3 separate regions of the Homo sapiens genome follow, and all the other regions are linked to region 3. Evidence: fine-mapped expression QTL. A gene starts in region 3. Each other region holds a variant in brackets. All regions are shown on one strand. Distances are between the middles of the regions. Region 1 overlaps DCK (deoxycytidine kinase). Region 2 holds the start of LOC101927297 (a long non-coding RNA gene). Region 3 holds the start of DCK (deoxycytidine kinase).

Evidence for each region. PIP is the estimated chance that this variant, and not a neighbour inherited with it, causes the effect.
Region 1: its variant is fine-mapped to the expression of DCK in whole blood (TOPMed, PIP above 0.99).
Region 2: its variant is fine-mapped to the expression of DCK in T cells (TOPMed, PIP 0.97). The same link has a PIP of 0.9 or more in visceral fat.

The regions. Positions count from the first base shown.
Region 1 is chr4:71,023,810-71,035,049 of GRCh38, forward strand. DCK (deoxycytidine kinase) reads left to right here. Exons shown (of 7, transcript NM_000788.3): 5 at 2,007-2,122; 6 at 2,856-2,946; 7 at 5,543-7,105. The coding sequence ends at 5,569. Among named protein-coding and RNA genes, the nearest start is that of DCK, 36 kb to the left of the region's middle. RefSeq lists an enhancer at 4,969-5,469. The variant C/T (reference allele first, on the strand shown) is at 6,694.
Region 2 is chr4:70,667,687-70,678,926 of GRCh38, forward strand. LOC101927297 (a long non-coding RNA gene) reads left to right here and starts at 10,972. Exons shown (of 4, transcript XR_938860.3): 1 at 10,972-11,056. The variant T/A (reference allele first, on the strand shown) is at 5,071.
Region 3 is chr4:70,987,479-70,998,718 of GRCh38, forward strand. It overlaps DCK (deoxycytidine kinase), which reads left to right and starts at 6,171. Exons shown (of 7, transcript NM_000788.3): 1 at 6,171-6,448; 2 at 10,589-10,704. The coding sequence starts at 6,358. It overlaps MOB1B (MOB kinase activator 1B), which reads left to right. Exons shown (of 6, transcript NM_173468.4): 6 at 1-690. RefSeq lists a silencer at 5,907-6,246 and an enhancer at 6,417-6,596.

The DNA.
Region 1 (11,240 bases), 36 kb after region 3:
AACCTCCCACTCCCCACCTCTAAATTAGAAACTTGTAACTGTGTAGATAGAAGCATTCTTTTTTCTCAGCAAACTGGAATCCCAGACTGGGCAAGTTGCTGTTTTAGGCTCTTTGTGCTTCCTCAATTCTTTTTTATTTTACTCATTATTTCTTTCTAACATTTGCAGACTCTTCTCATTCATCACAGTTAAAGTAATGAATGTGGTCAAGCAACTCCTAGAATATAGGCTTCATGAGGTGGGACCTTGGGCATTTTGATTACTATTGAATTTCCATTGCCTAGAACACCCAGTGCTGGGCACTGTTGGAGCATATAGTAGGAGCTCAGTAAATATTTACTGAATGAATGGCAATGTTGATGGAGGTCCATATCAAGAAATATTTTATTATGGTTGTTTGTGCCTTGGAATGAGTGGATAATGGCAGCTATCGTTGGGAAAAGACTTAGAGGACCCTTGCCATTTTCCATTAAGGGAGCTCACTTGAAAAGGTGCTTTTTGTGATAGGTTGTAACATAGCTATTCTAGTTACATATGATGTTATATAATGAATACAGGATGACCAAATAGATGCCTTTCATAAAACTAACCTAAATATTAAGATCTTACATTTAATCAGAAGCTTTCTGGTTTTGGTGCGTGCATTTCTATTGTTTCTGTTTTTTAATTCTCATTTTTTCCTTAAGTCACAGGGTAGGCACTGATGAATGTAAATGTTATGACTTCTGGCCTAAAATTAGAATACTGTGTTGCTGTCGAAGCTGGGTTTTCAAAGAAATTAGGTTTCCTATTCCAACGGATGATTTTGTTCTTCATTAAGTAAAGATTTTGTTCTTCATTAAGCAAGGATTTAGCAATTTTTTAGCAATTTCAAAAGTGAATTTTGAAATTCACTTTTATTTTTGAATTTTTTTGTTTTTAATTACAAAAATAGTAAATAAAAATGTGAAAAAGAACATAAGGAATATGAATAATTTCATTTTGCTTGAAACATTTATAGTCACTATTAAGCTAGAATTTAGCAAATATAATAATTTTGAAATTCACTTTTATTTTTGAAAAGGTTTCTTAAAGTTATGAAAATAGTACAAACACCAAAAACATAAATAATACTAATAATTTCATTTTGATACTGATAATTTCATCAGTATTGTTTCTGATATCTTTGGATGAAAGGATTGTTTAATTATTGAAAAGAGAATTTAGAGTAGAGTTTGAAACACAGTTTGTATGCTGCCATGGTCTTATGCATGTCATTTAGGTTGGAGGCTTTTATTTCTTGGAATGCATGAAGAGTTTCTCATGGTATATGAGCCCCCACAAATTATACGAAATTTTTTATGTATGTGTGCTTTTGGGGGACCGTTATCTAGAGCTGCACTGTCCAATGTGGCTATTTAAATTTAGGGTTATTAAAATTAAATAAAATTTAGATATTTAGTTCCTTGGTCACCACACTAGCCATATTTCAAGTGCTTAAAAACCACAGGTGGCTGGTGGCTACCTTATTTGATAATGCAGATATAGGACAGGCATAAAACATTCCAAAGTTGTTTTGGTTGTGCTGATATAGAGTTTTCATCACATTAAGAACCACTGTCTTTAGTGGTTTTATGTGAACTGAACATAGATATTTTGTAATCAAGGTTGGTTAACAGCAAAGTAAGATTATGTTTATAGATTGGCATACCTTTTAGCTGTTGTCTCTGAACATTTTAAGTAGATGTTTAATTTTTTTCTCCTTTTTATCAAACTTAGTATATTTCATGTGTGGATGGATACCAAAAATTTATAGGCTTATTTTTGAAAGTACTGCTTGGCTTAGAGCCACCAAGTGGCTGAAAAGCTCATGGAGGGAAAAATGAATTATTTCAGCTTTTAAGAAGTAATAAGTAGAGATTTTGGCTAGCGTGAGTAGAGAGACACAGAAAAGAAAATTTTGATGGCAGCAGACAAGAATAATTGTTCCCTGCCTTTTTCTTCCATCTCTTATTACTTGCTTTTAGACATGCTTACATAGAATATATTTACGGGGAAGAAATGAAGAGCAAGGCATTCCTCTTGAATATTTAGAGAAGCTTCATTATAAACATGAAAGCTGGCTCCTGCATAGGACACTGAAGTAAGACTTATTTTTATTTACTATTCATTTTAAATACCTTTGTTACCTTTGTTAAATTTTAATCTAAAATTTGGAAGATATGACTAGCAATATGTAAAATTTCCAGTCGTTTTGCTTATTGGTATCTTCCAGAACTAGGTATAGATTTTCATTCTCTTGATTGCAATGAGATCCTATTTACTTAAAGTTTTTATAACTAGTATCCCTTGGTGGTATTGATAGCGTAATATGTGAAATTTCACTTTAAGTGATAAAGTAGGAATATATCTGAACATTATTTAGGTACTCTTTCAGAAAGAATTTTGACTTGGGAGATTGTATAGCGTGGTTGTTGAGAGGATAGACTTTGTTATTAGTCAGATCTTGGCTCAAGTCCAGTCTTACTGGTGTGTGACCTTGGATAGCCTCTGAGCTTCAGAATGACAATTCTGAGCTTTAGTTTTCTCATCTTTAAAAATGCAGAAATTCCTACTTTATTGACTGCTATTTGTTTTTGAAGAGAATCATATGTTACAGTACCCAGCTGTATATATTTTGTACCTAAGTTTTTGGGCTCCATATGGTAAATCTAGATGAGAAAGAAGGGGCTGCCAGATGAAGTACTGCAAAGTAACTTTAGTGTAAATGATTGACAACATTTTGATTTTCCAAGGACATACGAATGAATTTTTAATGTTTCTCTCTTTTTTTTGTTGAATTTCTGATTATTTTATTAATCTCTCTTTTTAAACAGAACCAACTTCGATTATCTTCAAGAGGTGCCTATCTTAACACTGGATGTTAATGAAGACTTTAAAGACAAATATGAAAGTCTGGTTGAAAAGGTAGATTTAGACAGACTACAAACAAATATTTGTTTTTTCTAAAAAAGTGTACTGAGTGGTGAGAAAACAATTTTCTAACAGAAAAGCTTCCATAAAGTTACATTAAGAAACAGTTAAGAGCTTTAGAAGATTTTGGACTGTTTAAGATTCCAGTCCTGACTAAATTCTAGCTTTGTGGCCTGAGCTAAAATAAAGATCCTTCGGAATCTCAGAATCTGACAGATCTTAGAAAAAAATTAAATAAATAAAAATAAAATAAGGATTTTTTTTTATCCTTTAGTGCCTCTATCTGTAGGATAGGTAAAATTATAATAACAAAAATTCTTTCTCACCCCCTTTTTCTCTGCTTTGTCCCCATTTCTTCCTCTCTTCCCTACACCACCAATCTTTAGATACTTTAATAATAAACTGCTTGTGAAATTAAATTTATCTTTTTCAACTAAATTCAATATGGAGGATATTTAAAGTTACAGGATATGGATCTCATCTATTTTTATGTTGGCCAAAGTCTTGAGATTAAGGGATTTTAGTTTTGAGTTTCATTTGGGATCATGTCAAGGATTAATTGACATTACTTAATCATTGAGTCATTGTCTTAATCACAGTTCATTTATTGCCCAAATCACTGGGAGTTGACTATATTCTGTTAAGTGAGTGGTGCCCATATTGATAAAGGGAATGGGTGAGAATTTATTGATGAATATTTGAGAGAGAATAGTAAGGGAATTGGTATAACAAATATCCCTATACCCATGTTGATAACTGAGTGATTAAGCTATAAAGAAGAAAGCACAATTTGGTTTAGTTTTGAGAAAAATTTGATTTTTCCTTTCTTTTGTGGCATAATGTCTGCTGTTTAATAGAGACTTGACATTCATAAGGGATATATCAAGGATTTTGAAAATCTTGACATTTTATGTAACTACTGTAGCGTATACATGTAGTTGTTTTTCCCATGGTATGAACTAAAGCTTATCTGGAAAATTCCAATGACCTCTTCATACTACTAATGATGTTAAAAATATAGGATAAATTCACTTACAATACTATTAAATGAAAAGTCAGCATTAAGTATTAACAGCCAACCATCAATTTAACTGACTTTGTAAATCACTTTTTAATTTTATCTAACACTTCTTTGTTTTGACTAAGAATCATTTCACATTATTATATTTACTTTTATTAATAATGCTAGCAGTTGACTTTCTTATTAAGGTATTTTTACAAGGCAATAATTTTTGTTTCTTGAGAATTATTGAGTAGCCTAGAATATGTAGAGAACAAGCATATTCTTACATTATGGTCAGTAGGCTAGGTTCATTGACTCCTTACATGATTTTCTGCACACACTGACATTGCAAAGTATGTGATTCACATATGTGCTTCAGAAACATGACAAATCTACTACATGTTTGATTTTCAAAGTTGCTTGAACTATTGTGCTTATTAATGTTATCAGTGTTAAAGCTGCATATGTCAGTGGTCTATGATATTTAAATGAAGAGATTATAAAATTGGTGTTACAGCTATTTTAGAACTATATCTATCTTAGATTGATAGATGCAGTGGCTCACACCTGTAATCCCAGCACTTTGGGAGGCTGAGGTGGGAAGACTGCTTGAGCCCAGGAGTTCCTGACCAGCTTGGGCAACATAGTGAGACCTCATCTCTATAAAAAACAAACAAAAACTAGCCAGACATGATGGTGTGCACCTAGCCAGGAGTTCAAGGCTGCAGTGAGCTTTGATTGCACCACTGTACTCAGCCTGGGTGACAGAGCAATAAATAACTCCTAAAATGACCTTTTAGGTCATTCATCTTTTACTACTGAAGTATTTAACAATATTTCTTTTTTTTCTCGAGACAGTCTTGCTCCGTCGCCCAGGCTGGAGTGCAATGGCACAATCTTGGCTCACTGCCATCTCCACCTCCCAGGTTCAACCAGTTCTGCCTCAGCCTCCTAAGTAGGTGGGATTACAAGTGCACGCCTCCATGCCTAGCTAATTTTTTTTTTTTTTTGAGACGGAGTTTTGCTCTTGTTGCCCAGGCTGGAGTGCGATGGCGCGATCTCAGCTCACCACAACCTCTGCCTCCCAGGTTCAAGCGATTCTTCTGCCTTGGCCTCCCTAGTAGCTGGGATTACAGGCATGTGCCACTATGCCCGGCTAATTTTGTATTTTTAGTAGAGAAGGGGTTTCTCCATGTTGGTCAGGCAGGTCTCGAACTCCTGACCGCAGGTGATCTGCCCGCCTCGGCCTCCCAAAGTGCTGGGATTATAGGCATGAGCCACTGCGCCTGGCCTATTTTTGTGTTTTTAGTAGAGATGGGGGGTTTCACCATGTTGGCCAGGCTGGTCTGAAACTCCTGACCTTAAGTGATCCACCCATCTCGGCCTCCCAAAATGCTAGAATTACAGGCATGAGCCGCTGCGCCCGGCCTTAACAATATTTCTTTGGAAAGTAAATGCAATGGCATTGTGGTAGTTACTTATACAGCTGGGGTCTTCAACTATTATATACTTTTAAATGAAGATGAATATTAGATACCTCAAATTAGTCAAGGAATTATACTGATTTTTTTTTCTTCCTTTCCTCAGGTCAAAGAGTTTTTGAGTACTTTGTGATCTTGCTGAAGACTACAGGCAGCCAAATGGTTCCAGATACTTCAGCTTTGTGTATCTTCGTAACTTCATATTAATATAAGTTTCTTTAGAAAACCCAAGTTTTTAATCGTTTTTGTTTTAAGGAAAAAAGATTTTTAAAATGAATCTTATGCAAAACTTTTTGACCAGTTTCTTTTCTTTTGTTTTTTTTTTAAAAAAGACATTTAAAGACAAAGACATTATTTCTCATAGCAGGAAATGTAGAGGTAGATGGTTCCAGTATCAGCATAGTGACTAAACTACATTATAAAAGATCCAGCTTCCTTCTGTCATTCCCCTCTTTTGTCTTCCTCAGCAGGTTGGCTTTTTTCCCTGGTGCCTCTCACTTCGTTGGTGACCAGTTTCTTAAACTGAAAGCTTTAATGTTACATAGTAAATGGTAGTGTGTCCTGTGTAAATTAGTGTACCTATTAAAAGTTGCAAAGTGGAATTAAAGGAATCCCTAGAATAAGGATTCTGAAGTTTTATTTTAAATTATTATCTTCTTAACAGTTTAGTCCCACCTCTTACTTCCTGCCTCAGTCTGCTTTCTCTACTGTCTGGATTAATTAGGCAGCCTGCTATAAAGTTAAAGTCACACATTTCTATTTTGCAAACACTGTGATTACTCTTTGCTTTGTAGTTTGCTTTGCTTTGTAGGGTTCTGCTTTTAAGTTTTTCTCTTTTTCAGACAAATTACTGATAAAAATGATATTGCTCTATATGTAATATATCCTGAAAGCATTATTTTTTGTTGAATAGGAAATAAAATTAATGAAGACAGAGGCTAGAAAGCATCCATTAATTAATGAGACACACTTAACTACTTATCTCTAAACCATCTATGTGAATATTTGTAAAAATAATGAATGGACTCATCTTAGTTCTGTATATAAATATATTTTCTTTCTAGTTTGTTTAGTTAAGGTGTGCAGTGTTTTTCCTGTGTATTAAACCTTTCCATTTTACGTTTTAGAAAATTTTATGTATTTTAAAATAAGGGGAAGAGTCATTTTCACTTTTAAACTACTATTTTTCTTTCCAAGTCATTTTTGTTTTTGGTTTCTTATTCAAAGATGATAATTTAGTGGATTAACCAGTCCAGA[C/T]GCACTGATCTTTGCAAAGGAGACTTAATTTCAAATCTGTAATTACCATACATAAACTGTCTCATTATACGTATGCATTTTTTTAGTTTGTTTTTGTTTGGTATAAATTAATTTGTTAATTAAATATTTCTTAAGTATAAACCTTATGAACTACAGTGGAGCTACACTCATTGAAATGTAATTTCAGTTCTAAAAAGATGTAATAATCATTTTAGAATTAAAATTTATTCTACTTTTAAATAAATTATGAATATTAAAGGTGAAAATTGTATAAATTACTTTGATTCCATTTTAAGTGGAGACATATTTCAGTGATTTTTAGTAACCTTTAAAAATGTATAATGACTTTTAAAATTTGTAGAATTGAAAAGACGCTAATAAAAATTTATTATTTATTTGTCATGACTCAAAAGTTGTCTCAGTGTGGTGGTCATAATAGAATTGAGCCTAATGGTGGTCTGGATTATCTCTTGGATCTATTACCTATATCATGTCTTCCATTAGAATTTATTTATTGCTCTTTATAGTTTGCTCTCCTAGAAAGGTAATTAATAATACAAGACTTATTTTTCTCATCCAGAATTTTCTCTTCTGCTATGCCTAAAACTTGAAACTTATACCGAGCCACCTAGAACTTAAGTCTGTCATATGTTAAAGAACAGAGTTGTAAAATGTTTCTAAAATAGAGATATAGATGTTATTGCCTTTGAAAAATGCTAGATACATTGCAACATTAAGTCTGGTAAATAATAGCCTTCTTCATTTGACTAACTTACCTCTTCTTTTAATTTTTTTTTTTTTTTTGTTTTGAGAGAGGGTCTTGTTCTGTTGCCTAGGCCGGAGTACAGTGGCGCAGTTATAGTTTACTGTAGTCTTAAACTCCTGGGCTCAAGCAATACTGCCTCAGCCACTTAAGTAGCTGGGACTACAGGGCTTTCACCACCATGATGGCTAATTTTTTAAAATTATTTTTTGTATAGATGGGGTATTGTTGTCCAGTCTGGTCTCAAACTCCTGGGCTCAAGTGATCATCCTGCCTTGGCCTCCCAAAGCGCTGGGATTACAGGCACGAGCCATTGTGCCCTGCGCTAAAAGCTTTTTTTGAAATAGCTTTAGACTCATAAAAGTTGCAAGAATATTACAGAGTTCCTGTTTACCTGTCACTCAGTTATTTCCCAATGATAACTTTATTTAACAATAATATTTTATCAAAACAATTAAATTTGGTGTACTACTATTAACTAAACTACAGACCTAATTTGGATTTTACCAGTTTTATGTCTTACTTTAATTCATAAACTTTAAAGCATCTTTGGCTGGCTCTTTTTTCGGACTCAGCCCGCCTGCACCCAGATGAAATAGCCTTGTTGCTCACACAAAGCCTGTTTGGTGGTTTCTTCACACGGACGCGAGAGACATTTGGTGCCAAAGACCCGAGTCAGAGGGACTCCTTCGGGAGACCAGTCCCCTGTTCTCACCCTCACTCTGTGAAGAGATGCACCTACCACCTTGGGTCCTCAGACCAACCAGCCCAAGGAACATCTCACCAATTTCAAATCCGGTAAGCGGTCTTTTCACTCTCTTCTCCAGCCTGTCTCGTCAATCTCCCTGTCCTTCCAATTCCAGTTCTTTTTCCTCTCTAGTAGAGACAAAGGAGACACATTTTATCCATGGACCCAAAACTCCGGCGCCGGTCATGGACTCAGGAAGACAGTCTTCCCTTGGTGTTTAATCACTGTGGGGACGCCTGACTGATTATTCACCCACATTTCATTGGTGTCTGATCACTGCAGGGAGCCTGCCTTGGTGATTCACCCACATTCCCTTGGTGGCAAGTCAATTGCGGGGACGTCTGCTTTGGTTGCTCACCCACATTGCAGCCCCGGGCTGCTCGCCCACCCCCTTCCCCGTGTCTCTACCTTTCTCTTTAAACTTACCTCCTTCACTATGGGCAACCTTCCGCCCTCCATTCCCCCTTCTCCCTTAGCCTGTGTTCTCAAGAACTTAAAACCTCTTCAACTCACACCTGACCTAAAACTTAAATGCCTTATTTTCTTCTGCAGTACCACTTGGCTCCAATACAAACTCAACAGTAGTTCCAGGTGGCCGGAGAATGGCACTTTCAATTTGTCTATCCTACAAGATCTAGATAATTTTTGTTGAAAAATGGGCAAATGGTCTGAGGTGCCTGATGTCTAGGCATTCTTTTACACATTTGTCCCTCCCTAGTCTCTGCTCCCAATGCGACTCATCCCAAATCCTTCTTCTTTCTCTCCTGTCTGTTCCTTCAGTCTCCACACCAAGCTCTGAGTCCTTTGAATCCTTTTCTACGGACTCATCTGACCTCTCCCCTTCTACCCAGGCTGCTCCTTGCCAGGCTGTGCCAGGTCCCAATTCTTCCTCAGCCTCTGCTCCCCCACCCTATAATCTTTCTATCACCTCCCCTCCTCACACCCGGTCTGGCTTACAGTTTCCTTCCGCGACTAGCCCTTCCCCACCTGCCCAACAATTTCCTCTTGAAGAGGTGGCTGGAGTTAAAGGCATAGTCAAAGTTAATGCGACTCATCCCAAATCCTTCTTCTTTCTCTCCTGTCTGTTCCTTCAGTCTCCACACCAAGCTCTGAGTCCTTTGAATCCTTTTCTGCGGACTCATCTGACCTCTCCCCTTCTACCCAGGCTGCTCCTTGCCAGGCTGTGCCAGGTCCCAATTCTTCCTCAGCCTCTGCTCCCCCACCCTATAATCTTTCTATCACTTCCCCTCCTCACACCCGGTCTGGCTTACAGTTTCCTTCCGCGACTAGCCCTTCCCCACCTGCCCAACAATTTCCTCTTGAAGAGGTGGCTGGAGTTAAAGGCATAGTCAAAGTTAATGCTCCTTTTTTCTTTATCCGACCTCTCCCAAATCAGTTAGCATTTAGGCTCTTTTTCATCAAATATAAAAACCCAGTGCAGTTCATGGCCCGTTTGGCAACAACCCTTAGATGCTTTACTGTCCTAGACCCCAGAGGAAGGCCGTCTTATTCTCAATATGCATTTTATCACCCAGTCAGCTCTTGACATTAGAAAACTTCAAAAATTGGAATCCGGCCCTCAAACGCCACAACAGGAATTAATCAACCTCACCTTCAAGGTGTACAATAATAGAGAGGAGGTAGCCAGACAGCAACGTGTTTCTGAGTTACAGCTACTTGCCTCTGCTGTAAGACAACCCACAACCATGTCTCCAGCATACAAGAACTTCAGAACATCCAAGCCACAGCTCCCAGGGGCTCCTTCAAAACATCCTTGTGGACCTTGCTTCAAATGCCAAAAGCCTGGCCCCTGGGCCTCAGAATGCCCGGTGCCCAAGATTCCTCCTAAGCCATGTCCTGCCTGTGTGGGCCCCCACTGGAGGTCAGACTATCCGACTCACATCGCTGCCGCTCCTAAAGCCCCTGGAGCCCAAACCCAATGTTCCTTGGCCGACTCCTTCCCAGCTGTCCTCGGCTTAGTGGCTGAAGACTGATGCTGCCCGATCGCCTCGGAAGCCTCCTGGACCATCGCAGATGCTTTGGGTAACTCTTACAGTGGAGGGTAAGTCTGTCCCCATCTTAATCAATACGGAGGCTACCCACTCCACATTACCTTCTTTTCAAGGGCCTGGTTCCCTTGCTTCCATAACTGTTGTGGGTATTGACGTCCAGGCTTCTAAGCCTCTTAAAACTCCCCAACTCTGATGCCAACTTGGACAACATTCTTTTATGCACTCCTTTTTAGTTATCCCCACCTGCCCAGCTCCCTTATTAGATCGAGACATTTTAACTAAATTATCTGCTTCCCTGACTATTCCTGGGCTACAGCCACACCTCATTGCCACCTTTTCCCCCAGTTCAAAGCCTCCTTCGCATCCTCCCTTTGTATCTCCCCACCTTAATCCACAAGTATAGGACACCTCTACTCCCTCCTTGGTGACAGATGATGCACCCCTTACCATCCCATTAAAACCTAATCACCCTTACCCCGCTCAATGCCAATATCCCGTCCCACAGCACACTTTAAAAGGATTAAACCCTGTTATCACTCACCTGTTTCAGCATGGCCTTTTAAAGCCTATAAACTCTCCTTACAATTCCCCCATTTTACCTGTCCAAAAACCGGACAAGTCTTACAGGTTAGTTCAGGATCTGTGCTTTATCAACCAATGGTCTTGCCTATCCACCCTGTGGTGCCAAACCCATATACTCTCCTATCCTCAGTACCTCCCTCCACAACCCATTATTCTATTCTAGATAAACCTAGCTGACCCCATAGATCCTAAATCCTTTCGCCACTCCTTTCCGTTCCTTAAAAACAGCCCTAGAAGCTGCTCCCACAGTAGCTCTCCCTAACTCATCCTAACCCTTTTCATTACACACAGCTGAAGTGCAGGGCTGTGCGGTCAGAGTTCTTACACAAGAGCTGGGACTGCGCCCTGTAGCCTTTCTGTCCAGACAACTTGACCTTACTGTTTTAGCCTAGCCCTCATGTCTGTGTGCAGTGGCTGCCACTGCTTTAATACTTTTAGAGGC
Region 2 (11,240 bases), 320 kb before region 3:
ATTTTAATTTGATAGCATTAAGACGGACCTTCTGTCTAGTTACACCTTTCAGAATTGCAAACCCATAAGATGATTTTTGAGATGCCTCAAAAGCAAACTGAATCACTGCAGTATTTTGTGTAAAATTTTTTTCACTTAATTAATGTCATTTTTTTTAACTGAGCTTTTGGACAGAGCACCCCCTGCACTCCCACTCCAACATGCTGGAATTTCCTGTCTCTTAGGCAAGGTTGGTTCCAAGAATATGCTGGTTACACAACAGCATCAAATCCGTGTTACTTCTGGTTCTCAGCTCTAATTTTTGAAGGGACTCCTAGAATTTTAAGAGGTAATTAGGAGTACTTCAGAATCATAAGTAAGGCAAGCAGACTTCAAAGCTAGAAATACGAAATGACAGGATGAAAGAGACATTAAAGGCTAGCACATGATTGCACTTCTTCAGAGTATGTATTGAAAGTCTGTAAGAACAAAGTGTCAGGCACTGTCATACGCAATATTACTATACTGTCCAAGTTTATTCCTATTTTAATTTCTACTATCAGTAGGACTTAGCAACTACTTGAGTTTAGGGAAAATATACTGGCATCACATGGACAGTTTATTAAAAAAAGAAACAGACCTGAAAGCACATTATTTTAGTTTGTGGTCAGGAGGTCAAAACAACTATCAACCACTCTAAAAGATCCTCACCCCCAACTGAAGTTTCTAAATAACTGACTTATTCAATCACTCAAAAAAAAATAGTAATTAATAGTCAGCTGGATACCTTTTTAATTCTTGAAAAATAAACTCAAGGCTAGACTGCCTTCCCAAAGCAAGTTGAGTAAATCCTTGGGAACAAATTAAAACTTCTCCAAAAGTTTCCTTTTTTATAACAGCAAAGATTATTTAACTCATAATTACTAACCTAAAGAAAAGCTCTATATTTGATATTTTCATTCTTCCAATCTTGCTTTTTTTTTTTTTTTTGAGATGGAGTTTTGCTCTTGTTGCCCAGGCTGGAGTGCAATGGTGCCATCTCGGCTCACTGCAACCTCCACCTCCCAGGTTCAAGCAATTCTCCTGTCTCAGCCTCCTGAATAGCTGGGATTATAGGCATGTGCCACCATGCCCAGCTAGTATTGTATCTTTAGTAGAGACGGGGTTTCTCCATGTTGTTCACGCTGGTCTGGAACTCCTAACCTCAGGTAATCTGCCTGCCTCGGCCTCCCAAAGTACTGGGATTACAGGCGTGAGCCACTGCGCCTGGCCAATCTTGCATTTTTATATTTCGATTATGTAAACTATAAATCTAAAATAAATTGCGTTAATAAAAATAAAGTGTGACACATTTGTCATTAGAAGAGAATTACCTATGCTGGCAACATAGGATCTGGACTAGTGTTTTGCCTTGTGTGCTCTAGGGATCATCTGACTAGAACCACTTGTAGTACTGGTTAAAATATGGATTTCTTGGTAACACTCAGAATTTCTGGAGATGTGACCTTGGAATATGTATTTTCAAAAAGCATCCCAGTTGATTCTGATGTGCACTGAAGTTTGAAAACTAATGGAAAAAAAGACTGGCCTAGGGCAGGAAGTAAGGGAGTGCAGAATAACTAGCAGCAATAACTATTTATGGAAGAACAAAAGATTAATAAAGGTAATTTTTAAATAAATAGCCATACTGAAAAGTTAGCTGAAGTTTGTATTTGCTTATAATTCACTATAGGTAAGCTGTTGCATATTCTTTTTATCATTAACCTACTATATACAAATACAAGTTCCAGTTTAATTTTTAAACCACTTCTTTGCCAGTTTTAGTTATGTTTTTGCCACTAAAAAAATGTCAAATGTGAATAGTAGAACCCTTTACATGTGTGTTAAGTGATTGAGAACTTAGCCATGTGTTCTAAATTCTCAGCAAAAAAAGAGGCTTATTTTTCTATACTCACATTTAAGATTTGTGTAGTAAGAGATTCAGTGATAGACTCAGCTAGATGAAAGAGATCTTAAAGGTAATTTAGTCTCACCTTCATGACTCTCAATTTTTTTTCAATATTCTATATAACCGAATTCAGCATTTAGTTGAAAATCATCCGAAATAGTTGGATGCTCCACTCCCTGTGGACACAACTCATTATATTTTGGGATATTCAAATTGTGACAAGATTTTATTCTCATGGGACACAGAGAATGTAACTCCCTGTTTTCCTCCTGTCTCACTGGTGACTCCTTCTGGGTCTCTTGCCAAATTTTCCTCTGAATATTGAGGACATCAAGGCTTAATCCTCATCTTTTCTATTCTCTTAGCCTCTCCTTAATTAATTTTACCTTATTCCATGCCTTTAAACATAGGGCACACTGAGGACTCTCAAATGTATAACTTTAACTTTTACCTTGCCCATTGAGTTCTGAATGCCTATGTCCAACTTTTTATTTTATATCTCCATGTAGCTATCTAAATGGGTATCTAAACTTAACCAGGTAAAACGGTATTCTTGATGACCAATCCATCCTCACACTCACATACCAATCTCTTTCTGTCTCAAGTTTTCCCCCATCTCAGTAAATGACACCTCCATCAGTTACTCAAGCCAAAATCCTCTTCTTTGCTTCCTTTCTTTTCCTCTCCCCTACATCCAATTTACCAGCATGACCTGTCGGCTTTCTCTCCAAAACATATCCCAAATTCATCTGATTCTCTCCGTTTTCACTACCAACCTAGTCCAAGCCTCCATCCTCTTTCCTGGACTACCATAATAGCTTCTATAATTAAAAAGTAACTTTTCCTTTCCCTCAGCATTGGTGACTAAGGCACACAGATCATAAACAAGAATGACTAAGTACCACAAATCTAAAGCAAGCCAAATATTTCCTCCAAGGTTTGTTAAGAGGCAACGAAGCCAGACACAGTGGTGCATGCCTGTAGTCCCAGCTACTCAGGAGGCTAAGGCAGGAGGATCGCTTGAGGCCAGGAATTGAAGGCAAGGCTAAGGAAGATAACAGTAGTTTTCAATGTATAACTATTATGTACACATACAATTTTTTTCTAAAAAGAGGCAACAAAACTCAATCTACTTCCATCAACCACCACTCCACCGCTCCCATACACTCCCATCTCATCTTTAGAAGACTAGGGAGGGAAGAGGGGGGATGTTATAAGAGCAGCTGTTACCTTGTTGAAATCATAGTGTTTGTAATAAGAGACTCCCACACACATATCCCACCTCGCTTCACCCTTGGGAGAGTAGAGAGTAAAGGTGGGGCACCTTCCTCTCCCCAGATTCAAGTGAGGGAGAGTTTCAAGAAAATCACCCAAGAGATCAGGGACCCTAAAAGCAGGGGAGATTGAGAAGCAATATAGCATAATAGTTAAGAGAAAGGGCTCTGAACCTGACTGATTGGGTTTATCCCCCAATTCCACCACTCTCTAGCTAGGTAACACTGGACAAACCTTGAACAAATCACTTAATCTCTCTTAATTTCCTCTATCTGTAAAAGGGGGAAATAACAATATATGCTTCACAGGATTGTTGTCAGGTTAATATTTATTACATCTATTACATCATGTGAAGAAGTTAGATCTTGGCACACAATAAGTGTTATGTAAGTACTAGTTACTTATTATTATCATCGTCGTCATCATTATGTCTTAACTCCTTGTGGAGTTGCAGAAAATGCAGCTACCAACTGCAATGAAGTTTGGGGAAAGCATTCCTGGGAGAACCTGACATGGCCCCTTGGGTTGTGGATGTGCAGGAATATCAAAAATGATACATGATCATGCTATATAAAGTATAAATGAAAATGTCCAAAGTTTCCAACTTAGGATGGGTGAGGAGGAAGTTCACTTGGAAGATATGTTAGCTTTATTTGTAATAGCCTAAAGCTGGAAGCAGTCTAAATGTCCAAAAACAAATTGGATAAACAAATTGTGGTATATCCATTACTCAATAATAAAAATGAATAAGCTATTAATAGACACAATATGGATGAATCTCAAAATAATTATTCTGAGGGAAAGAAGCCAGATAAAAATTTTTTTAAGAAAGTACAGGCTGGGCACAGTGGCTCACTCCTGTAATCCCAGCACTTTGGGAGGCCAAACTGGGCAGAACGCAAGGTCAGGAGTTCAAGACCAGCTTGACCAACATGGTGAAACCTTGTCTCTACTAAAAATACAAAAATTAGCCGGGTGTGGTGGTGGGTGCCTGTAATCCCAGCTACATAGGAGGCGGAGGCAGGAGAATCGCTTGAACCCGGGAGGCAGAGTTTGCAGTGAGCGAGGTCGCGCCATTGCACTCCAGCCTGGGCGACAGAACAAGACTCTGTCTCAAAAAAAAAAAAAAAAAAAAAAAAAGAAGAAGTACATAGTGTATGATTCTATATTTGGATATATTTATATTTTTTTCTAGAAAATTCAAACAAATGCATAGTGACAGCAGATCAGTGATTATCTGGGAAGGTGGGGACAGAGAGAAGGGAAGGCGGGACTATAAGTCTATAAAAGGACATAAGGAAGCTTTTGGAGATGATGAATATGTTCATTATCTTAGTGGTGATAATGAATTCACAGGTGTACACACATGTCAAAATTGATCAAATTGTACAGTTCAAATGTGTGCAGTGCACTGTATGTCAGTTACATCTCAGTAAAGCTATTAAAAAGTTCACATCTTCAGAATTCAGTTTTTTAAGTATGATGTTAGGTTTTTCTTGGGTGCCCTTTACCAAGTTGAGGAAGTTCCCTTCTCTTCCTGGTTTGCTGTGAGTTTTTATCAGAAGTGAACATTGAATATTTGTCAAATATTTTTTCTCTGTCTATTGAGATAACCATATGGTTTTCCTTTTTTTGTTTAATATGGTGAATTACATTTATTTTTAAATGTTAAACTAACCTTACATTCCTAGAATAAACCCCACTTAGTTATGATATAACATCCTTTTCATAAATTTTGAATTTTATTTACCAAAATTTTGCTTAGAATTTCTGCTTTTATATTCATGAGGGATAATTGATTTAAAATGTTCTTTTCTTGTAATGTCTTTGCATGGTTTTGTTACTACAATAATGCTGTCCTGAAAAGA[T/A]GAGTTTAGAAGTATTTCCCCCTCTCCAATTTTCTGGAGGAGTCTGTGTAGAATTAGTATTATTTTTCCTTAAATGTTTGGCAGAATTCCTCCAGTGAAGCCATGGCCTGGGAACTCTCTCCAAGGCAACATGGGGCAATGGTCTCCTTATTTGTTTCCAGTCTCTCCGAAATCACTGTCCTGCATTGCCTAATGTCTTGAAAACCAGTGTTTCTTCCGCATGTTCTCACTCACAGGTGGGAATTGAACAATGAGAACACTTGGACACAGGATGGGGAATATCACACACCAGGGCCTGTCATGGGGTGGGGGGAGTGGGGAGGGATAGCATTAGGAGATATACCTAATGTAAATGATGAGTTAATGGGTGCAGCACACCAACATGGCACATGTATACATATGTAACAAACCTGCATGTTGTGCACATGTACCCTGGAACTTAAAGTATAATAATAATAATAATAATAAAAAGAAAACCAGTGTTTCTTAAATTTTGTCAGTTTTTTCTAGTTGGTTCAAATGGCAGGGAAAATCTGCACCGTTATTCCATCTTGTTTAGCATTGGAGACTTGAAATTAAGAGTGAGTTTGAGATACAAGCTTTTAGACTGAACTAGACTTTTAAAAAATGAGCTTTACTATTTATGGCACTTTTACAATCACAGCAAATAAACTAGATTTTTTAATAATGAAAAAATATTTTTAAATTACGGAATCTTCTTAAAACATTGTCAAAAAGGCAAAGAAAAATTCAATTATAGTAATTGAGAGGCAATAATTGGACGAAAATATGGTTTCATGTTATAACTCATTAAACTGTTCACTGTTCCAAACTCTTCTCTAGTCTTACCTGCCACAATTCATTGTCCACTTACCATGAAAAGTGATCTTTTCAAAGGTAAATCAGATCATATCTGATTTAAAACCCTCCAGTGGCTTCTCATTACACTTAGAATAAATTCAGAGTCATTAGCCTTCCTGATTTCCTGCAACTCCCCCTTCCACTCATCTCTCTCCAGCTACTCTGCTCAAGGCTTTCGTATTGTCTTAGTCCCTCTGCCTGCAACACTTTCCATAGCCTTGCATGGCTGGCCCCTTACCACCAAGTCTCAATTCCAATGTCATTGCCTCAGAGAGAAATTTTCTGGCTGATAATCTTCCTAACCAATTACCAATCATTATCATATTGCCCTGTTTTATTTTCTTCATAGTTTTTATTATTGTTTGAAATTCTTTAGTTTACTTAGTCGTAACTGTCTCCTCCTCATTAAAATAAAAGCTCCTTAAGAGCGGCATTGTCTTGTTGCTTACTTCTGTTTCCAAGAACAAGCGCAGGATTGCCTCAAGTATATTGATTGAATGAAGGATGAATGGAGAACGTTTTTACAAGGAGTTGAAAACTGCCTCTAAGTTTATGTCTTCTAACAATATTAGTCTCTTTTGTGGATAGGCTCCATATTGTCAATGTCCTATTTAAAGAGTAGTATCTAGATACATATTCAATAGTCAAGTGTAATCTGGACAGTACAAACAACAGCTGAACTTAACATTTTTCAATAAATCCCACTTAAGATGATAATATCTCTTTTTTGGCAGCTATGTTACACTATTGGCTTCAATTAAAGTGTACAATCTCATTTTTAAAAATATGTTTCTATAAAGTAATGACTTTCCCATATTTAAAATTTAAACAAGTTAGGATTTGGGCATGAGATTTAGCATTGGTCCCTAAGTTTTATCTTGCTAAACTCAGACCAACATTACAATGTCTCAGATTCTTTTTAAATCCAGATTCAGAAACCTTGCACATTAGTTCTTTCTCTCAGCTTTACAGTATCTGCAAACTTGACACATGCCATCGGATCCTTACTGAAGTCATTAAGAAAAATGTTTAATGGGATAGTGCTTAAGATAGACTTTTGCAGCATACATCTAAAGTCCTATCTCTATCAATATCAGTCCATTAATAAGCACATTTTGGGTGCAGTAGTTCATCTCAAGTTAACTCATAATCCATACTATCACACAGACTCAAAGTCTGGGTTTTATCCATAAGGTAACATGAATACTTATCATAAAAGGCCAATCTCTCCTTTATTCTCTATTTTAATGTCATCTCATTTCTCCCCTTGAAAGCCTTCCCTAATATAAAAGGAGTCTTGATAGCAGCCTGGCATTTTGCCACTTGAACTCTTAAAAGGGACGATGATATTTTTTAACAGGCTTCTTGGCCTTAAATCCAAAATGCAGCTGAAATCTCTTGATTTTCCTTTTAATGGATTAATTTCTACATTTAGTGTAATAATTCACATTTCCCATTTGTCCTTGAACTTTATATGGAAAACAAATTTTACTAATAAATAGTACTGCTTAATCAGCTCTAAAAATTAGGAGGGAAAATATGAAGTCTACAAGAAACCTTGAATTAAATGTCAACCTGTAAATTCCAAGTAACCCAAAAATCTTTTAGATTTAGAAATAACTTATCAGTGTTCCCAAATGTGCTAGAAAAAAGAAATCCTTTTTGTGTGTGTGATACCCTAAATATATCTGACAGAATCTTCAGTATTATTATAAGTGGTAAGTGAATTGAAAGAGCATCATCAGTCCTGGATCTCCCTAAAAAGTATCGTCTTTCATTTCCTTAGCACTCTCATGAATATATTCCAGAATCTATTTATTTCAGAGGACATAAAAAGAAATAATTTTAAAAGAATACTGTAAAATGTATACTCGAGATAAGCATTTTATATCTGACAAATTTACAAAGTCTATTACAGAGGAACTCCATGACTACTTTTACAACCAGGTATATATAACAATCCCAGAAACCCAGAATTAAATGACACACTTGCAAGGAATACAGAGAGGAAAGTAAGATATTTATTTCCCTAAAACATAGATTCTAAAATATGTCAAATGGCCATTGAAAGCACAGCCTTTAACTCTTCTCCGTGTATACCATCTCTCTAACTTCTATACGTTTGAGACACTAGACAATACAAAAGTAACTTTTGAATCAATCCAGAGAAATAAACTGAAGGAAGATTCTATTAGCACTGAACGAAAGATCTGCTGCCAAGAGAAGCTAACAGCAAAAACCATCTCCACTCCATCAAAAACCATCTCCACTCCAACAAAGTGGAAAATTCATTATATGTGTGTGTATATATACTTATCATGAATATATAACTGCTATTAACTTAATACTACAAAACTAAAAGTCCCCAAATATCCCAGAATTTCACAAATCAGTCAAGCATAAAATTACTAACAAAGGATAAAGAGGAAGATGTTTTTTGTGTTGTGTGTTTTTTGTTTTTTTTTTTTTTGAGATGGAGTCTCATTCTGCTGCCCAGACTGGAGTGCAGTGGCGCAACCTTGGCTCACTGCAACCTCCGTCTCCCAGGTTCAGGCAATTCTTGTGCCTCAGCCCCCCGAGTAGCTGGGACTACAGACATGCACCGCCACGCCTGGCTAATTTTTGTATTTTTAGTAGAGACGGGGTTTTACCATGTTGGCCAGGCTGATCTTGAACTCCTGACCTCAAGTGATCCACCGGCCTCAGCCTCCCAAAGTGCTGGGATTACAGATGAGAGCCACCGCGCCCAGCCTGGTTGTTTTACTATGACAAAACTGAGGTATAGCCCTTGATCTGACAATCGGTCCTCCTACCAAGATCCTTGCTGGGTTGCTCTGAACTTCCTAAAACTCCTATAGGGCACTCTGTGTCCAAATCCACAAGAGCACACATGACTTATCTGGAATAATTATCAATAAAAGTTTTAAAATATGTTTAATAATATTAAGGAGTACAGAAGCAATTGCAACTATATTTGCAATGTTTGGGAGGGACATTATTCTGCCTAACCTAGAGTCAGGCAAACACTATTCCAAGAAAGGAAACAACAAGTAAAAAGCACAAAATAAGAAAGAGCTTGGCCCACACAGGATGAGGAGCAGGAAGGAAGGCACTTGTAGCTGCAGCAGAGTGAGGGGGAGAATCATAGTAGATAACAACACCATGCACTTTATAGGATTAACTTTTTTCCCCCATTTTTTTTTTTTTTAGATGGAGTCTCTCTCTGTCACCCAGGATGGAGTGCAGTGACATGATCTCGGCTTACCGCAACCTCCGCTTCCTGGGTTCAAGCGATTATCCTGCCTCAGCCTCCTCAGGAGCTGGAACTACAGGCATAAACCACCACACCTGGCTAATTTTCGTCTTTTTCAGTAGAGGTGGGGTTTCACCATGTTGGCCAGGCTCATCTCAAACTCCTGACCTCAAGTGATCTACCCACCTTGGCCTCCCAAAGTGCTGGGATTACAGGCGTGAGCCACCATTCCTGGCCTTTTCCCCCATTTCAATTGTACAAGCTTAGAATCTATTTTGAACTTCAGAATCAATCTTAGTCATTCTAAAGCTAAAGGTAGAGAGCCTAAGCCTCTTAACTTACAGTCCATTTTACCTCTCACAATACCAAGAGCCATTAATACTATTTTTTCACATCTATATGGAGAAATTTCTTCTAATTGGCATTTTTTGGGGGTGGGGGAATTGAAAGATTAGACTGAATCATTTCACAATGTGATGTTTTGATTATGTATACCTTGTGAAATGATACAAAACTTAGAAATCTGTAATTTAAATAAGTGAAATAATCAAAAATGATTTTGTCTAACAAAAATGCTTTAGCTGGCTGAACACGGTGGCTCATGCCTGTAATCCCAGAACTTCAGGAGGCTGAGGTTGATGAATCACCTGAGGTCAGAAGTTTGAGACCAGCCCAGCCAACGTAGTAAAACCCCAGCTCTACTAAAAATACAAAAATTAGCTGGGTGTGGTGAAGTACATCTGTAGTCCCAGCTACTTGGGAGGCTGAGGCAGGAGAATCACTTGAACCCAGGAGGAGGCTGCAGTGACCCAAGATCACACCGCTGCACTCCAGCCTTGGCAACAAAGCAAGACTCTGTCTCAAAAAAATATATATATATTTAGCTATTTTTGCAGAGATATACACTGAATGATTTTTTCTGATATTATATAAGCATTGAATGATTAAAAGTCAAACAGAGCATTTTTACTCAACTTTGATACCCTTTGATACCCTCCTTCCTAATCTTTGTGACTTCCAACCTCATTAAATGTCTGATAATACTAACTGCCATTTTTTAACCCTAAACATTTTCGTTCTTATATGCAGAGTTTCTTCAAATATTGATCTCTATCCAAGCACAGTGTATGTAAAATTTATATTTAGATATCAGGAGGCAAAAGCTGGTCAGTTGGGTGCAGTGGCTCACGCCTGTAATCCCAACACTTTGGGAGGCCAAGGCAAGCAGATCATTTGGGGTCAGGAGTTAAAGACCAGCCTGGCCAACATGGTGAAACCCCATCTCTACTAAAAATACAAAAATTAGCTGGGAATGATGGCGCATGCCTGTAATCCCAGATACTCGGGAGCTGAGGCAGGAGAATTGCTTGAACCTGGGATACAGAGGTTGCAGTGAGCCAAGATCATGCCACTGCACTCCAGCCTGGGCGACAGAGTGAGACTCCATTTCAAAAAAAAAAACAGAGGCAAAAGCTGAATTTAAAAAAAAAAACCCTCAAAATATGAAGAAGAAACTTCATTCCAAATTCTTACTAAAAATTAAAAAATACAAACCAAAAAATTGACTTCTTTTTCTCGAACAGCTTTCCACATAGACTTTTAGGGTAGTCCTTCTGTGGTTAAATGTTTATGAGGAGAATTGCACCTGTGTTGTGGTCAGCTTTTAAATAAACTTGCACCTGCAGTGGTTTTTCATAGAATTGCTGTTTGAGAAATTACATGTCAGTGGTTTGACCATCACACAGAGCTATTTCCCTTCACCATATCACCTGCCAGGCAGGTCCTAATTTAAAAAGGGCCTACTTCCAAAAATTCATTTGAAAAAAAATCTGGTTAGATTTCATGGTAATCTCTCCAGGGACACAATAATAAGTAAGGTTTCCAGGATACCCCTCAAACAAAAAGAATATGCTCCCTTCAATTCATCCATTGCAGTGGTCTGGTCCTTCTCTGCTTTAAGAAAACTTCTGATTTCTGGAGAGGCTTCTGCTCTAGTCAATTATGTCTGCTTTCCTTTTCCTGTATATTATCTGCTAATTCCTGTTTCAGAATCTTT
Region 3 (11,240 bases):
AATGACTTTTTAGGGAAAGTAGTTTTTTTGGAGCTACTAACTTGTATTTATTATTGTACATGCATAACCAGGGTGGTGAGGGCACTAATCTTGTAGGAAACACTTACTTGATGTTTTATTTGAACTTTTCCTATAGGTTTAACTTTTACTGCATAGAATTAACACTAGGAACAGTGTCATGAAATCTGGGTTGAAGGAGAATACAGTATATATGAGAACACTTAAAGTTCAAATAGAAATCATTTCTGAAGACAAAAGCAGAGGAATATTGTCAGTGCCAAGTAATGGAAGAATAAGGGCGGCATTTACACTGTGCAAGTATTGAGAAGAGTGCATAAAGACAGGGAACTACTCTCATGGAGACAGTTTCTCTCTTATAATCAAGTAACTAGAAGGGGAAAAATCATCTAAGTTATGAAATCCAACATAGGCGCTATATTACAAACTGTGCCGGATTATGCAAATTGTAGTTGTTACTGATCAAAGTTTAATTGCTTCATTTTTGTTTAAAAAGGGATACTGATGTCAGAAAATCTGTAATATGTTTTATTCAAAAGATGTAAATAATGTATACAGACTTGTATGTGATGGGATGGGAAATATTTAAATTCTAGGTGTTTTTTTTTTTTTAAAGAAGAAACTCAATGTTTATAAGAAAAAAATGAATAAATAGTTACGTTTGGCCATGAATCCTGACTTTGCATTACTGTTTATTTTTGCTATAGGCATTCCCACACTAAACACATTCCAAGGGAAATATTGATGGCATATGGAATATGTTGAACATTTAAAATTTGTTAGGCACTATTTTCTGTAATGTTCACAACAACCAGTGTCTTAACATCTTAGAAAACTAAAGCTCAGAAATTGTACAAGTCACTGATTTGGATTACGGTTTTAAAACCCTACTGTGTCTGAACTTGAAACCAGTGTTTCTGTTTTACTTTTTTCACTTTTTTCTTTATTCTGCAGTATGCAGGTGTATGTTTTCTATAATATATACTATTACAGTGAGAACAGTTAGCACAGTAATAATCATTTGTTGACCTCTTCACCAAGCTATTATTTAATATTTTGTCTTCATTACAGATCATTAAGGAATATTAATAATATTGGAGAATCATTTACCAAGTTCCAAAAGGAAATGTGTATTTTATTTTATTTTATTTATGAGACGGAGTCTTGCTCTGTTGCCCAGGCTGGAGTGCAATGGCACGACCTCAGCTCACTGCAACTTCCACCTCCTGGGTTCAAGTGATTCTCCTGCCTCAGCCTCCCAAGTAGCTGGGATTACAGGCATATGCCACTATGTCCGGCTAATTTTTTGTATTTTTAGTAGAGACAGGGTTTCACCATGTTGGCCAGGCTGGTCTCAAAACTCCTGACCTAAGGTGACCCATGAGCTTTGGCTTCCCAAAGTGCTGGGATTATAGGCGTGAGCCATCGCGCCTGGCCAAAACGTGTATTTTAGAAGTCTTCTCAGAGTATCAGAAGTATTTATGTTAGAGGCATTTGTGTTTGAATCTTCAGGTTAAGAATATTTAATGGTAGTAGCCACAGTTGCTCAAAGTCACTAATGGTATTTGGGAGAAAGACTAGTTGAAATGCTAGCCAATGCTGTTGTGGACTGTGTCTGCATGCTTTAAAAACGCCCTGTGGGCCGGGCGCGGTGGCTCACGCCTGTAATCCCAGCACTTAGGGAGGCCGAGGTGGGCGGATCACGAGCTCAGGAGTTGAGACCTGCCTGGCCAATGTGGGGAAACCCCATCTCTACTAAAAAATACATTAAAAAATTAGCCGGGCACGGTGGCGCTTGCCTGTTGTCCCAGTTACTCGGGAGGCTGAGGCAGGAGAATTGCTTGAATCCGAGAGGCGGACTGTGCCACTGCACTCCAGCCTGGGCGACAGAGCAAGACTCCGTCTCAAAAAATAAAAAAATAAAAACACTCTGTTATTCATTTATTGTGTGTAAAGAAATATATATTGTAAAATTACCTACATTTTGATAATTAGGTTCATTTACCTCTGTTGTACTAAATGTATTATAAGTTGTTAATCCCTTATATAACATCTGCAATGAGCATTTTGCAACACAAAGATTCTAATTAATTATTCCTCTAAGGTTTAAACAACCATGTTTAGTAGAAGTTTTACTAAGAAATTGTACATGCTCCTGTTACAGCATGATGAATACAGTGTCACATTTTCTTGATGACCTCAGTCCACTTCACAAGCATGTAGTAAAACAGCTTTCTTTGCTAAGCTGTATACATCTGATGGCTCCTATGCTCTTCTAGTATGTTATTTTGCTTTCAGATTTCAGATTTGCAGGAAGCACACTGACTCCCACTCTTGCATTTATGATGGCTTCTGTACCCCGTTTTCTAGGCACTAATGAAGATTACAAGGGGAAATTTATAACCAAGCTTATTAAGTTGATAAATATCATTTTACAGAAGTAGTTGAGTTTGTGTAGACAAACTCATGGGCTGTGTAACCACTACTTAATGTTCAGGGTCTCTTATTTTTTCTGCTTTTTATTATTTTCTGGGTTGATTTAGTTTTCCTAATAAACCTGTATGTTGTCAGTCAGAACGCTGTCTCATTCTTTAGTTACACTAGAATTCCCACAGGAGAAAATTCCCAAATTGAAGGAGTAGTAAAATTTCTGGTAAGAAAGGATTAGGTGGCAGCACGATCATGACTGGCTGGGTGCGCTGTATCCTGTCTCTTATCTGCAGTTTCAAAACCTGAAAAGCTCAGAAAACCAAAATTTTTTTGTTTGTTTTTTTGAGACGGGGTCTCACTCTCATCCAGGCTGGAGTGCAGTGGCATGATCTTGGCTTAATGCAACTTCCGCCTCCCGGGTGCAAGCGATTCTCCAGCTTCAGCCTCCCGAGTAGCTGGGACCACAGGCACACACCACCACGCCCGGCTAGTTTTTGTATCTTTAGTAGAGACAGGGTTTCGCCATGTTGGCCAGGTTGGTCTCGAACTCCTGAACTCAGGTAATCTGTCCATCTCGGCCTCCCACAGTGTTGGGATTACAGGCGTGAGCCACCGTGCTTGGCCCCAAAGGTATTTTTTTTGAATTCAGTGCAAACTTATTCTGACCAGATGTTAATAGTCTTTATCCCACTTCATGTTAACACTCTTTGTTTCACTGCAAAATATTAGTGCATTTGATTTAACACCTCTGCAGGGGGAGTGGGGGTGCTTACTTAATAATTAATATACAGTATATGCACTGTATCGTTTCTAAAGTTTCGATTCCAAATTTTATTATTGAGACGGGGTCTTGCTGCTGTGTCACTCAGGCTGGCATGCAGTGGCGCGATCATAGCTTACTAAAGCTAAAACTTTGCAGGCCCAAACCATCCTCCCACCTCAGCCTCCTGAGTAGCTGGGACCACAGGTGTGTGCCACCACAACCAGCTAATTTTTGTATTTTTTCTATTAGTTTCGCCATGTTTCCCTGGTTGGTCTCGAATTCCTGAGCTCAAGCATTCCAGAGTACCTCCCAAAGTGCTGGGATTATAGGCAAGAGCCACTGCGTCCAGCCAGTTCCAAAGTTTAGAATTTCTTTTCTAAAAATCTTTTCTAAAAGTTTTAAATTCTGAAACATCTGGCTGCCAGGGTTTTAGATAAGAGATTGTGGACCAAAAATCAAGATGTTTTGAAAAGTGCTTTTCTCTGTTCTCTCCTTGTGTTACCCCCAGGTCATGTAGGAAAATGGGAAATTATGCTGGACTTAATGCCAAAAAAGCTAGATTCTTTGCTTCCCCCATTTACTTTGTTGTTGTTAGTTGAGACAGGATCTCACTGGAGTACAGTGGCATGATCTTGGCTCACTGCAGCCTTGACTCCCTGGCTTCGGTAATTCTCCCACCTCAGCCTCCCAAATAGTTGGGACTACAGGCGCCTGGCTAATTTTTCTATTTTTTGTAGAGACAAGAGTTTTGCCATGTTGCCCAGGCTAGTCTCAAACTCCTGGGCTCAAGCGATTCACCTGCCTCGGCCTCCCACATTTGTATTTTTCAAAGTATACTCTTAAGCTCAGATGAATTCAAGTTTTTGCAGCCAGAAACTGGTAGAACTGGTGTTTGAAATCTTTCATTTTCCAGTGCTTAAACTCTTCATCATTGTAAGATACTTCTTGTGTGGGTCTTTTTTGTGGAAACCACACTTGGAGATTTCTACTCCTTAACCCCAAGCCTCTTTATGACATCCATCCAGGACCAGCTCTGCTTTCCTGTTGAAGGTCTCAAGAGACTTGCCTTCCTCCTCTCGGTAGCTGCCAGTACTCTTACCATTTCATGAGTTTTCCCCCAAGCTTGGCTGTGAAATGTGATACCTATTAGCTTCCGCAGCACCTTTCTCCCAACTTCCTTGCTATACCTGATGACAACTCTTCAGGCCTCTTATATTCCTAGGATCTTGCTATTAATCACTATAGGGATAAGTAAAAGTAATATATACAAAATAATTGCATAACAGAATAATATAGGGCAGTTACATAGAATGATTCTTGCTGTTTAATCCTGGAAAATGTGATCCCCGAGGATTCACATTTTAATTTCTGCTCTTTATTTCTGAGGATGGAGTCACCGTTTTCCCCTTCTGGCTACACATTTAGATGCATTTCAGGTCTGATGATAGTTGCAATGTAAAAAAGAATAGCAAGGCCTTTGGTTTCTGTAGACAATTTGGACCAGATAACTTCCAGACTGGGTAATATCCGGTTTATTAGTGTTACTGGATGGGAAGTCTTGACTGAGTTGTCTGGGTTTTTGGCGTGTTGAACAAAGAATTGAACAAAACGTAGAAACAAAGCAACAAAAGAAGCAACGAAAGACAAAACAACAAAAGAACGAAGTAACAAAAGCACAAATTTATTGAAGCGAACCAAGTGCTTCAAGAGTCCCAATTGCAGTGTTCTTAAGGGTTACTAGGCTAAAAGAATTTGGTAAATCCCTAGGTGCCCTTTACAGTCGTCCAATTGGTTGCACCCTATGAAGGATTGGCCTGCGACCAATCAGAGGCTGAAATGGAGATGGCCGAGGACAATCAGAGGCGATGTGGAAACTTCTGTCTTGTAATCACAGGAGTGAAGGTGTGGCCTGTATGCTGCCTAGTCTTGCCTAGAAATTGCTGCACCTGCTGTTCTTTTGCTTATGCCTTAACCCTTGGTTACCCTAATTCCCTATTCTCTTGCCTCATTAGGTCTTTACCCTGACTAAAAATGCACTCATCTAGCTGGGACAAATCCTACACTGCATTTGTCCCATCTAGATGAGTATTCTAGCAGAGTACATGGCACATGAGTAGGCATTCAAAAATTCAACATACAGTACATTTTGTTACCTATGTGCCAGGTGTCGGGCAGGCTGAGTTAACAGCTGAACAGAAACCTACCTACCCAACGTGCTAACTTCTATACAGCATGGTCGTGCATCCAAATCAAATGGAAAGCGGTATGGGAGATCTGGAAAGGCCTCCTGTGGGTGGCATCTGACTACCTAAATTCCCATCCCAGTTTCACTTACTGACTTTGACACTTGGAACAAGCAGCCTCTCAGTGCCTGTTTTCCCACTGGCAGGTAAATGGGCTAATGACGGTATTTCTGGCACTAGACTTCGTTAATTAATGAAAAGCACATAGAAGAAAACAGCCTGGCTCTCTAAGTGGGCAGTGCGATTCCCAAGGACGGCACTTCGCCTGATAGTCTTCCTCTAGGCTGAGAAGCCAGAGTAAATCCATTTGATTTTCCTACCACACAGTGCCTTCTCCCCAGATGAGTTCAAAGCTTTAAGTCTATCCAGTTCTGTCCAGACGCGTCTGTTCATCTCCAACAGGCCCACTAGAGAGGCGGGTTTTCCAAAGCCTGGCACGGCCCACTGCAGGTGACGCCCTCTGCCCTCCAGCGCCCTCAGGCCTCTGGGGTCCACCCTTCCTCCCCACCCGACTCCGGAACCTCTTCCCGCGCCCTGCCCGGGCGCCTGGCTGCTTGGGGTAGAGGCCTTCCGCCACACGCGCGGCCCCGCCCCGGCCTTCACGTGACCTGGCGTGCGGAGCGCGCACGCGGGAACCCGCGCTGGAGGCGGGCGAGGGCCGAGGGGCAGCTAGGGAGCGCGGCTTGAGGAGGGCGGGGCCGCCCCGCAGGCCCGCCAGTGTCCTCAGCTGCCTCCGCGCGCCAAAGTCAAACCCCGACACCCGCCGGCGGGCCGGTGAGCTCACTAGCTGACCCGGCAGGTCAGGATCTGGCTTAGCGGCGCCGCGAGCTCCAGTGCGCGCACCCGTGGCCGCCTCCCAGCCCTCTTTGCCGGACGAGCTCTGGGCCGCCACAAGACTAAGGAATGGCCACCCCGCCCAAGAGAAGCTGCCCGTCTTTCTCAGCCAGCTCTGAGGGGACCCGCATCAAGAAAATCTCCATCGAAGGGAACATCGGTAAGGAGCCTCCGGAAATGTGGGACGCAAGGCTGGGGTGTCGCGGCAGTGGCTGAAGCTTCCCTTCGCCGCATCTCTCTGCAGCAACTCGGTGAGGGCTTTCCCTCCAGCCTGGCGGTGTGGACGCGGCCTCGGCTTCCTTTCCCACCCAGAGCATCCTTCCCTTACCTCCCGCTCCACGGGGTGACTGCGGTCCCCGGGGTCAGACTGGGCGCCAGGCCTGCGGTCTCTGTGAGGCGCGCTTTGAACCTCTGCTCCCTCTTTGTTGGGAACTCGCAAAGGGAAGCGGGGGAAGGGTATTAGATTTCTTGAGGTGTAACTTACATTAAATTCACCCTTTTTAGGTGTACTCTTCTATGAGGTTTGACAAACATTATGCCTTTTGCTATCACCATGATCGAGATACAGAACATTTTCATCACCTTAGAAAGTTCCTACCTGCTCCTTTGTATTCAGCCCCCTCCACCCTTCCTATTCCCTGGCACCCACTGATTTGATTTCTATCCCTGCAAGTGTTGCCTTTTCCAGAATGCCATATAAATGGAATCATAGGCTATATCGCCTTTTGTGTCTGGCGTCTTTCATTTAGCATAATGCTTTTGAAATTCATTCATGTTACTTGTGTCTGTAGTTTGTTTCTTTTTATTGCTGAGTAGTATTCCATTGCATGGATGTACCATCGTTTATCCATTTTCTAGTTGTGGACCTCAGGGTTGTTTACAGTTTTTTAGCTATATTATTAGCGAAGCATTGTTTTAGCTATATTATTAACGAAACTCGAAACATTCGAGTACAAGCAAAGAGGTCTTTAATGATCTTAATAGCATGGAGTTCCTCACCCCTTACTCCACATCCAAGTAAACATTGGATTATGATTCAAAGACCACTAACGTTTCTGTTAACTCAGATGGGGGGCAGACTAGGCCATGCCTGTCACTTTGCAAGATACACACCAACGTCCGATTCTTCTGTATCTCCAACCACAGGAAACCTACCCCTGAAACTTCCTGTTTTGATAGATTTAAAAAAAAATTTTTTTAGCTCCAGGTTGGGTGCTGGTCATTCATGCATACAGCAAATTTTTTAAAATTCTTACCACATTCAAAGCACTGTACCTTCTTGAAAAAGGCCAGGCAAGCAGATGCTTTAAGCATTCAAATGAATAGAAAAACTGCATTCTCAAAGAGGACTTCTTATTTCATTGCTCCAGAATTAAAGCACCAGTAGAAAGACCATATGATATAATTAGCAATGTAAGTTATTTGAGGGTGCATGTTTACTAGTATGGAATCTCTGACAGCTGCTTACTGAATAAAGAAGACCATATATAAAGACAGGAGAAAGTGGCTGAACAAAGCCATCTGAAAAGTAAATTTGAGGCAGGGCATGGAGGCTCATACTTGTAATCCCAGGATTTGGGGAGGCTTAGGCAAGAGGATCACTTGAGTCCAGGAGTTCCAGATCAGCCTGGGCAACATAGTGAGAACTCATCTCCACAAAAAAATTAAAAAATTAGTTGCATGTGTTGGTGTGCCTCCAGCTACTCAGGAGGCTGAGGCAGGAGGATTGCTTGAGCCCAAAGATCAAGGCCACAGTGAGCCATGATCACACTACTGCACTCTAGCCTGGGTGACAGAGCAAGACTCTGTTAAAAACACAGAAACAAAACAGTAAAGTTGAATGAATAACCCCTCGGATCAATACCACAATACATTCATCCCCTTTCCCTCTCTCCAATCCAGTTAGGTAGCATCATATTTAGAAATATTTCCTCAAAGCATCTTTAATCTTTTCAGCAGCTGAAATAATTTCCTAATATATCATCCCATCTCCAGTTTCTCTTAACTACTTCTGCAACGGTCTTTTTGTATGCAAATGTCATGTGTTATCCCCTGCTTAAAATTCTTCACTGATTTTGCCTTTACCTACACTGAAAGTAGTTGTGAACTGATAGCCTGCAATTGCACAATATTGGCCTGCACAGGTTGAAAAAAAATTTTACTGGCCAGTGGCTCAAGCTTGTAATCCCAGTGCTTTGGGAGGCTGAGGCAGGAGGATTGCTTGAGGCCAGGAGTTTGAGACTAGCATGGCAACATAGTGAGAACTAGTCTCTAAGAAAAATAAAAATAAAATTAGGCCAGGCACAGTGGATCACGCCTGTAGCTCCAACTACTCAGGCGGCTGATGCTGATGTGGGAGGATCACTTGAATGTGGGAGGCAGAAGTTGCAGTGAGCTGAGATGGCACCACTGCACCCCAGCCTGGGTGACAGAGTCTCAAAAAAAAAAAAAAAGCCAGTTGTGTTAGCATGCACGTTTAGTCCTAGCTACTCAGGAGGCTGAGGTGGAGATCTTTGAGACCTATAGTTTGAGGCTGCCGTGAGCTGTGGTTGTGCCACTGCCCTACAGCCTGGGCTACAGAGTGAGACCCTGTGTCTAAAGAAAAAAAAATTAAATTTGTTGCTAACTCGAAAACGTTTTGAGATTTCCCATAAACAATTAGATTCTTGGCTTCTTTTGAAAAATCTGAAGATCTGTTAACACCGGGCCTGCATTTCTGTATGACAACAATTGGTGTTTAGATGGAGCATGTTCCTTGCCATTTTTCGTCTCCCTGACACTGAGACTTTGTTAGTTACTGTTCATTATTGGTCTTGCACTTTTGTTCATGTCTCCTTCACCTTATTTGCCAGATCCAAATAAGCTGTAAATGCACAAATTGTTAAGCTGTGCGTAAACTATTTTGCAATTCCTCTATTTTTCCTAGAATTTGAACTTTACTTGGTCGTTTTAGTTTTATATTTATATAACCCATCTTCTTATGTTCTGTGTTACTCAAATGTTCCCTTATGTTAGATTGATGGAGGACTTACCTGCTTCTCATCTTAATAGTCTGTTCAGAATGACTTTCAGCATTATAATGCCTGCTTGGCATTAGGAATTCTGTTAGTTTCCATGACTTTTTAAAGTATTAACATCAGTGTCTTTGGTTCTTGTTCTCCTTTGCCTTCATAGAAAATTAATTTATTAATTAGCTTATTTTCTAGCTCCCACTTTGCCCCAATAAGTTAAGGAACTAGATGTGTTAGTGTGATTGGGAACTCTAGCTGTTATTACTCTGCTTGAACTAAATGTAACTGTTATTACTCTTAGACTTTTTAAGTATGACCATATGAATTTTTCTGCTTGTAAGCAGTGTCAGAAGAAAGTTGAATGCTGTAGCCTTAAGTGCTTTCAGACTCTGGTGGATGCCTAATTTTTTTATTTGTTCCTTGGGTGCTATTTCTGAACATCATGTTCTCCTTTCCCTCTTCCATCTAGCTCAGTGAATGTGGGGTGTTCTTTCTATATGCTTTCACTTCCACTTAACATTCTTCTAAATGCTGTACAGTCCCTAAGCTTACACTCTCCATACTAAATTTTGGTGGCCAGTGTTTTTACCATGATTAAATCTCACTGTTATCCAGTTTATCGTTAAAAGTTTTTCTCCTCTCCTCTGGATACAGTTTACTTTGTGTTTTTCTTCTAAACTGTCTACCTGTGTCACCTTCTTTACTGCCTCGCTCCTGTTTTTTCTCTGTGTGTAATTCTTTAAAGTTCTTCCAGGTTTTTCTTCTTTTCTATTGCCCTGTCTAATGTCCTAGATTTAAATATAGTTCTGCAAGTCAAAGGTAAGTTCTTTCTACTCCCCATGGATCTAATTTATAAGGAAGAGGAAGCTTTGCTTGTAAGTATATTGAAGTTATTTATATGTTCATCTGTGTGTGTGTGCACGCACACACAGGGAAAGAGAGAGAACATTATGCTAACCAGAGATGTCTAATACAACCACATTTGGTGACTTCAGATATAAAGGGTGTGGTGGCCATTAGGAGTATTACTTCTAGGTCAAGACTGTCCCTACTATTAAATATAATATATTGTTAAACTAAACGTAATAAAAAACAAATGTGCTTAATGAAATTGGGCAGGGAGCCTTTTCATTTTCTTCTAAAGAAATATGAAGAGAAAGTTTAGAAAGTTGAATGTTTTGGGCTTTTTATGTTGCTTGCTATTGTAAATCTTGCAAAAGCTAATGACTACTTGACATCTTTTTTTCCTGACAACTTTTCTTCCTCAATTTTATCTTTCCTCACAACAGCTGCAGGGAAGTCAACATTTGTGAATATCCTTAAACAATTGTGTGAAGATTGGGAAGTGGTTCCTGAACCTGTTGCCAGATGGTGCAATGTTCAAAGTACTCAAGATGAATTTGAGGTATGAAAATAAAATTTAAGTAGATAAAAGCCTCTTGGTTTAGAGGAGCAGTAGTACTTAATCTCTTTTTCTTTTTCTTTTTCAATAAAACTTTCAAATCTCGCTTTAGGTATATATCTTCATCTAGGTGGTGGTTACATGGATATATATACAGTTGGCTCTCCATATCAATGGGTTTCAGATTGATATGGATTCAACCAATCATGAATAGAAAATATTCAGAAAGAAATAATACAAAAAAATACAAATAATAAAGGATTACTGTTCATATAGCATTTACATTGTATTAAGTATTATAAGTAATCTAGAGATGATTTATACTATTTGGGAGGATATATGCAGATACTACACCATTTTACATAAAGGACTTGAGTATATGTGGATGTTGGTATCTGTGTGGAACCTGGAATCAATTCTTGAGGTTACTGAGGGGTGACTATATGTTTAAACATGCATTGAGGCCGGGGTTGGTGGCTCACGCTTGTAATCCCAGCACTTTGGGAGGCTGAGGCGGGCGGATCACTTGAGGTGAGGAG